Regions from separate parts of the Homo sapiens genome. Here region 2 is linked to region 1. The links come from fine-mapping of genetic effects on plasma protein levels. A gene starts in region 1. The other region holds a variant in brackets. All regions are shown on one strand. Distances are between the middles of the regions.

What was found. PIP is the chance, under the fine-mapping model, that this variant and not a neighbour inherited with it causes the effect. The UK Biobank Pharma Proteomics Project read protein levels with antibody pairs (Olink). The fine-mapping took linkage between variants from a reference panel, not from the people measured, so its PIPs are less certain.
Region 2: its variant is fine-mapped to the plasma level of the TLR3 protein (UK Biobank, PIP above 0.99). The variant lies in the coding sequence of TLR3. If it changes the protein, the assay may bind it differently, which can mimic a change of level.

The regions. Positions count from the first base shown.
Region 1 is chr4:186,066,801-186,071,195 of GRCh38, reverse strand. TLR3 (toll like receptor 3) reads right to left here and starts at 2,040. Exons shown (of 5, transcript NM_003265.3): 1 at 1,948-2,040.
Region 2 is chr4:186,081,199-186,085,526 of GRCh38, reverse strand. TLR3 (toll like receptor 3) reads right to left here. Exons shown (of 5, transcript NM_003265.3): 4 at 1,355-3,207; 5 at 1-882. The coding sequence ends at 654. Among named protein-coding and RNA genes, the nearest start is that of TLR3, 14 kb to the right of the region's middle. The variant G/A (reference allele first, on the strand shown) is at 2,607.

The DNA.
Region 1 (4,395 bases):
AACAAACTTGGAGAGACTCCTATGAAATTTCAGAATTGCAACCATGCACACAAAAATCCTAAAACCTTCATTTCCAAAGAAAAGAGATCTTGATTAATAAAAAACTTTTCATCAGTAACATGAACCACTGGAAAACAATAGAGATAAGCTTTCCAAACATTTAGAGAAAATTATTTTGAATTTAAAATTTCATATCCAGGCAAAGCATAGTGGCTCATCCCCACAATCCCGGCACTTTAGAAGGTGTAGGCAGAAGGAGATCAGGAGCTCAACACCAGCCTGGGCAACATAGTGAGACCCCGTATCTACAAAAATATTTTAGAAAGTAGCCAAGTGTGGTGGCACAAGCCTGTAGTTCCAGCTACTTGGGAGGCTGAGGCAGGAGGATCGCTTGAGCCCAGGAGGTTAAGGCTGCAATGAATCATGATCACACCACTGCACTCCAGCCTGGGCAACAGAGCAAGACCTTACCTCTAAAAAACAAGAAAATTACCTTTGACCAGGCCAAGAAAATTACCTGTGGCTCATGCCTGTAATCCCATCACTTTAGGAAGCTGAGGCTGGAGGATCCCTTGAGCCTAGGAGTTTGGGACCAGCCTGGGCAACACAGGGAAACCTCATCTCCACCAAAATTTTTTTTTAAATTAGCTGGCCATAGTGGTTCACACCTGTGGTCCCAGCTACTCGTGACACTGAGGTGTGAGAATTGCTTGAGCCAGGGAGGTCAAGGCTGCAGTGAGCCACGATCATGCCACTGTACTTCAGCCTGGGCAACACAGCGAGACCTTGTCTCTAAATCGATAAATGAAATAAAATGAAATAAAATAAAATAAAATAAGATAGGGAAATTTCACATCCATCTGAATAACTAAATAAAAAGGTATAAGTATTTTGAGATATGCAAAAATTCAGTAAGTTTATAGCCATACGATCTGTATGAAAAGGTTATTCTAGGACATGCTTCAGTAAAACAAGCAAAAATGCAGTTAAAGGATGAAATGAGAGTGAAGAAAACGTTGCTGTTGAATGAGATCTAGCAGAAATAAAGAAAATGAAAAAAAATTAAAAAGAGACTCACTCAGCCTTAGAATTTTGGAAATATTTTGTGAGGGCACATGGAATTCACATTCTTTGTCCAAGTGAGAGACAATATTGCCTGATGGTTAGGACATGGGGTCTGGAGGCAGACTACCTGGAGTTAACCACTATCCATAGTTTGATTTGTAAACTTTGCAACCTTTGTAGTAGGTTCATACACAGGCACGCCCATATGAAGACACATACCAGCACGTAATCATCTGTAAACCTGGGAATCAACTTGCTGAAGCCAACTCCATTTTTACCCGAGTACCCCACAATTGCCGATACCAGTTTCTGATCTTCCCATACACCTTAACAACTTTCCACTTCTCCACTTCTTCCATTATCCTTCATTAGGTGAAAGAAAGCCATTTACTTACTCCTAGGCATACCTGAATGTTCTCTCCTATCTAAGACATTGTCATACAATGCCAGCTCCTGTCTCCCCTCCAGCCAATAAAACTAACAAAAGGGGATACGCTCTTTTAACCTCTTGGAGTTTTGTTTCTTTAAGGCAAAGATGTGATTTGCTAAAAAGACTGTTGCAAAATGATTTCCATAGCTTCCCTAATGTGTTTTTTCCAGGTACAGAATGCTACAGAGAAAAAAATTAAATACTGCATAAATACATTATCACATTAACTAGATATTGGTGCTATTACTTGTGTTCTGAGTTATACCCTTCTCCCATGCCCATATCATATCCCTTTTCTTCCACTTTCCTTCCTGAATAATTCTGACTAGATTTCAAGCACCAGATCAAAGAAAGACCAAAGAAGGCTAAAACCACATGCATTCTGCTAGCAAACTCTACTCAGCAAGAGAGACCCTGCCCAGTAAGAACGTGAAATGAACACCTTCACTTACTTGGATGACTGCTAGCCTTTCCTTTTTTCTTTAGTCCAAATCCAGACATTTCATCAGGGAAGTGTGTGGCAAATAGACGGCACTCTCGAAAGTGAAAGTAAAGCTTGAAAAAAAATGCTTTTATGTTTGGTGCATTCCAAGAAGGGCAAAGGGAGAAAACAAAAACAATCTCTGACAACCTCAGAGAGGCGTTTCAAACCGCCTCTGAAAAACACCTAGTTTTTATTTTATTTTAACTTTTTTTAAGCTGAGATCCTTGGATTTCATTGAAAGGGTCACAGATTTAGCAACAGCTAAAGTTGAAAGTGGGGACCTCACCATTTGATGTGGGCGGGTCTGGACCTCTGCAAGTTAAGGAATAACAGTGAATCCCTCAATTTTCTGCTAGACTCATGCGAAGCTGTCAGAATTGAGTAGTGTATGGTCACAGGGACAGAAAAAAAAATCCCTAATCAAAGCTGAAGTACTTTCCCTTCTTTCGTCTGGCTTTTATCTCTTTGCAACACTGTAAAATAACACCGGCAGAAATTAACCTCTTGATCCAGGAAGAAACTGAGTTTCACAGCAGAGAAAGAGCCAAACATGGCAAAGCTGAGAGCCAGTCCCACTCCTGCTGATCCACTTTTCCACGGTCAGACGCGTTAGGGAACAGATCAGTATGCCCAGAAAAGTTCAGATTAACTAAGAATTTCGTTCTTAATTTGCTTTAATGACTCCAACTAGTTAAGTAAATGTACTTGTTAAGAAATGAACTCACTTTTTTTCATTACAGATGTGCTATGATCTATTATAACTATATTGTTATATAGTGAAATATCACAATTGGAAGGAACTATAGACCACCTAATCTAACTCCCTTGTTTGAGAAATTAGGAAAACGAAACCTAGGGAGGTGAGTGGTTTGCCTAAGAACATGCCACAAGCCACCATATGCTTCAATCACACAAGTCATAAAACAACTGGACGGCTGGGACATGGCATTAGCTTGAACTCATTGCAGAGCTGATGGCAAGAAACAAGCGTGCATCATGGTGCAAAGTGCCCTCTTGTGGGCTCCAGCTTCAGCTAGACCGCTTTATAGTTACTGGGCTCAGGGCTACATGTCTCTGATTTTCATTTGTGACATCTGTAACATAACACCATAAGCAAACAGATGTCCTGAGTACGTGACTGTCCCTCACATCTATCCATTGGGATGTCCAGGAAAACTTCACTAATATTCAAAAGATTTCTTCTCTGTGAGCGCCTTGAAGGCAGGGTGAGGTTTATTCTTTGCATTATAGCTCCCCAGCAACCCTCTGAGGTAGACTGTTTCTTTGGCCTTCAATGAAAGAGACTCGTCCTCAGAATTCAAACCCTTGTGTGGCCTTCTCCCACGCTGACTCTAGGCTTGGCCATTTGACTAGCTTTGACCAGTGGGATATTAGCAAGCATGCAACAAGGTCTCATTGCCAAACACGATTACCCAGGCTTGAGAAGCAAGCAAATAAATGATTGTTGTTTTAAATTTAAAAAAATTGGAATGGTGTCATATGCATTATTAGCGAAATAAAACACATCATCTCAACAATCCTTCATACCTATCCCTTATGCCTTATGACTCCTTATACAGATTAAATTTCCCACGACTTTGGTTGACTAATGAATGGCTCTCGATAAATAAATTTTATTGATGGTCTCCTGATGCAGTAGTTTGGGCTTAATACCAGTTCATATTCAGATATTATTAGTCCTTAATTCTTGCTAGTTTCTAAATACAACACAGATTGTTTTCTCTCTACTGTACATTTCTTAACTATGTGCATTAACTTATTTAGCTATGATGGTGATTGGAGCAATAGTGAAAAACCTCATTTTTCCCCTTTTTAAAAGAATTAAGGCTGGGAGCAGTGGATCATGCCTGTAATCCCAACACTTTAGGAGATTGCTTGAGCCTAGGAGTTCAAGACCAACCTGGGCAACGTGGTAAAACTCCATCTCTACAAAAATTACAAAAATTAGCTGGGCATGTTGGTGCATGCCTATAGTCTCAGCTACTTGGGAGGCTGAGGTGGGAGGATCACTTGAGTCCAGGCAAATTCAAGTTTGCATTGAGTCATGAGTGCGCCACTGCACTCCAGCCTGGGTAACAGAGGGAGACCCTGTCTCAAAAAAAGAGAGAGAGAGAATTAAAAAAAAATGTATGCCCATAAATGTAAAATAACAAATTTAGTAAACACTGATATTTCACAGCATTACAGATCAGCCAATCTCAGAATAATGGGAAGCTGTATATTCCCAGCAAAACAGAGATCTACAGAATTCTAGAAGCCAAAGTCCCTTAAATTTATTCACATTCTAAAAACTCTAAGTTCCCTTCTTCCATTTGAGGGGCCTCTTTAATGAGAGTTTAGTAAGATAATATACACAAAATTTCTGGAAGAATCACTTGACAAAACACAGCAAGTT
Region 2 (4,328 bases), 14 kb before region 1:
CTCCCACAGCAGAAACTCATAATCTCAGGAAAATACAAGTCAATATTCATTCAAATAATCATCTCATTAACTAATAAAAATGAATTGCAAATGTTTTCTGCCCTTGGGTATGTATATTAAAAAATATTTAACATTTAACAAAGTCAACACTGAGACAAGTACTTACTAAAATACAAAGTTTTTCCATTGAAAAAATACTGTAATTAAACTTGTTAAAAATATGGGTATATATTTTACTCTTTTACAAAGGAAATAGCATTATACCCATTGAAACAATTATCTTTCATTCTAAGTGCATCCAAAATACAAAAAGATCATCACAAACCCTCATATACCTCTAACTTTTCTTAAAATGAGGAATGTTTTCAAACTCCTTAAGCTGTCATAGGCTCAGTGGCTGATTGTATATTAATCAGTAGACAATGTTCTTACGTGCTTATATGTTTTATTTTGGGTAAAATTAAGTCAATTGTCAAAAATAGGCCTGAAATAAGGAGACACATTTTCCTAGAAGAGATGTAATTGTGATAGAATATAATCATTTACAAATATGAATAAACAAATTATAACACCTTTATGGAAAACTTAAATTTGCCATAGAACTTTTTAAATTGAGAAAGTTTCTCCTTTGCTAATTGAATATTTAAATAAATTTAATGTACAGAGTTTTTGGATCCAAGTGCTACTTGCAATTTATGACGAAAGGCACCTATCCGTTCTTTCTGAACTGGCCAGTTCAAGATGCAGTGAGATTTAAACATTCCTCTTCGCAAACAGAGTGCATGGTTCAGTTTATAATCTGGAATCTCCTCAAGGAAAACCAATATAATGGAATCCAGATTTTGTTCAATAGCTTGTTGAACTGCATGATGTACCTTGAATCTAAGTAAAAAAATGTATTGAAGAATTAATATACGGTTTTTAACAGCCAGAAGCAATACTATTTAAAAATACTCTGTAGAGTTTAAACTGTTACTGAAACTCAGGTTTTTTTTTTCTTAATTTTATTTTAAAAATTCTTTGAGTTGTGAGTAATATTGGTAATATTTAAAAGTTTAATTGAAGCTCACCTGAGGCCAGGAGTTCAAGATAAGCCTGGCCAACACGGTGAAACCCCATCTCTAATAAAAATACAAAAATTAGCCAGGCTTGGTGGCGCGTGCCTGTAATCCCAACTACTTGAGAGGCTGAGGCAGGAGAATTACTTGAACCCAGGAGGTGGAGGCTGCAGTAAGCTGAGATCACACCACTGCACTCCAGCCTGGGCAACAGAGCAGGACTCCATCTCAAAAAAAAAAAAAGAAATTTAATTGAAAAGCAAGTACACACTTAAAATTTCACAATGTTTACCTACCTTTTGCATAATGGGTCTTTTAATAGATGGTGTGTTATAACAAAAATAATTTTTCTGCTTCTTTTGATGCTGTTAACAATTGCTTCTAGTTCAAAAACACCCGCCTCAAAGTCCCTTTCTTCCAGACAAAATTTGAGAGATTGGTCTTCCTTTTCCATTGAAGAGAAATGTTCCCAGACCCAATCCTTATCTTTATAGGCATGAATTATATATGCTGCATATTCAAACTGTTCTGTCTGTCTGTCTATTTCTTTGAAACCAAGAACTCGATGTACTGAAACATTCCAATAAAAAGATATCCTCCAGCCCTCAAAGTGGATGAGAAGTACAATAAAGATAAAAATCAACAGGATACTGGTATTGATCATGAAAAAGAGTTCAAAGGGGGCACTGTCTTTGCAAGATGATGTATCAAAAAGTCTCACTGGGAACCCATGATAGTGAGGTGGAGTGTTGCAAAGGTAGTGGCTTGACAGCTCAGGGATGTTGGTATGGGTCTCGTTAATCCAATTAACAAACCAGGCAATACTTTCACACGTGCAATCAAAGGGATTAAAGCGCATATCTAACTCAGTCAGGTTCCTGAAAGCTGGCCCGAAAACCTTCTTCTCAACGGATGTTATGAGATTCTTCTGAAGGTTCAATGACTTTAGAGACACCTGATTATTAAAGACAGATGCTGGAAGTGTGTTTAAATTATTCAATCCTAAATCGATGATCTTTAGTTCAAATAAATCCTTGAAGACCTCAACTGGGATCTCGTCAAAGCCGTTGGACTCCAAGTTAAGGATGTGGAGGTGAGACAGACCCTTTAGGAAATAAATGGGACCACCAGGGTTTGCGTGTTTCCAGAGCCGTGCTAAGTTGTTATGCTGCAAATCGAGAATTTCTAGTTTCTCAAGACCCTCCAACATGTCATCATTTATGTTGGCTATGTTGTTGTTGCTTAGATCCAGAATGGTCAAGTTACGAAGAGGCTGGAATGGTGAAGGAGAGCTATCCACATTTTTAAGGGCCACCCTTCGGAGCATCAGTCGTTGAAGGCTTGGGACCAAGGCAAAGGAGTTCCTAGTCAGCTGCAGGTACTTGTTGTAGGAAAGATAGATTTCGAAAATATTTTCTAGACCTCTCCATTCCTGGCCTGTGAGTTCTTGCCCAATTTCATTAAGGCCCAGGTCAAGTACTTCTAGGTGGCCCAACCAAGAGAAAGCATCACTCTCTATTTTTGAGATTTTATTCTTGGTTAGGTTGA[G/A]TATGTGTAAGGGAGAATGAGCAAGTGATACAAATGTTTCATTTGTCAAAGTTCGCAAACTTGTAAAGGAGTTGGATAGACTTAAGTATTTCAGGTTTATCAATCCTGTGAACATATTGCTTTTTATGCCTGGAATATCATTATCTTCCATGTTAAGGTGCTCCAAACATTTTAGCCACTGAAAAGAAAAATCATCAATCTTGGGGAGTGAGGCAAGGGAAATACTTTGTTTAGTAAAAGACCGTTTCAAATTCAGGTACCTCACATTGAAAAGCCCGTGCAAAGAGTGAGAAAACAAATGCTGTATATTATTATACTCTAGGAAGAAATATTCTAGTTGTGGAAGCCAAGCAAAGGAATCGTTACCAACCACATTTAAGTTGTTGTAGGAAAGATCGAGCATAGTGAGATTTGTCCACTTTAGTCCCAAGAAAGTTGTATTGCTGGTGGTGGACAGCTGGCTGTTACTCAGAGACAGATTCCGAATGCTTGTGTTTGCTAATTCCAAACATAGCTTCTCTGTAAGGCTGGGACCCAGCTGGACATTGTTCAGAAAGAGGCCAAATAATCTTCCAATTGCGTGAAAACACCCTGGAGAAAACTAAAGGTAGGAAAAAAAAAGAGGTTAACAATCAAAAGAACACAGACTCTGTAATGCTGTTGAAAGCCTTTTTTTTTTTTTTTTTTTTTTTTTTTGAGACGGAGTCTCGCTCTGTCGCCCAGGCTGGAGTACAGCAGTGCAATCTCAGCTCACTGCAAACTCCACCTCCTCAGTTCAAGCAATTCTCCTGCCTCAGCCTCCCGAGTAGCTGGGATTACAGGCATGCGCCACCACGTCCAGCTAAGTTTTGTATTTTTAGTAGAGTCGGGGTTTCACCGTGTAGGCCAGGCTGGTCTTGAACTCCTGACCTCATGATCCGCCCGCCTCAGCCTCCCAAAGTGCTGGGATTATAGGCCTGAGCCGCTGCACCCGGCCAGATGCAGTTCTTTACTCCATCTCCGCTCACCCTTCACCACATCCCATGGGCAGAGCATTTCTCCCCCTTCCTGTAATGCACGAGTCCTTCCTTACTCGGTTCCTGCAGCGCCCACCTCTTACTCCAGCCTCTGACCTCCCCTGGCCACGGGCTAACTTCTGCTCAGCATTCACAGCCTCAGCTTAGATGCCACCTTTTCAGGGAGGCTTCTCTGACCTTCCAGTCCAGGATCCATCTCCTGGTACTTTTTCTTTATCACCATGAGAACAATTGCAATGAATAAACTGCTCGTGAAGTCACTCCTGGGGCAGTTCCTGGTTGTGTCTTGGTGCCGCTGTTCTCAGTGAGCCTCATGGAAGGAAGTTGTGGATGGCTTTTATGATGAGGCGGTGACGGCACACTTTCCTTTCTGGAACTCTGAGCTCTAGCTCTCCCTCTCGTCTTTCCACCCGGATTTTCTCCTGACTTTCTTTTACTATCGTGTTTTTCCAGCTCCCTTCTGCTCCGTCCTACACCCTTACCAGAGCCTTGGCTGTTCTGGGACTCACTTCGGGGACAAGAGAACAGCAGGTGGGAGAGGAGGAATCCAGAGAGAATGGAGGCCAGTTCCGGCAGGCAGTCGAAACCGCCAGAGGAGTAAAGGGCTCTGATTTCTTTTTCTTTTTTTTTTTTTTTGAGACAGAGTTTCGCTCTGTCCCCCAGGGTGGAGTGCAGTGGTGCGATCTCAGCTCCCTGCAACCCTTGC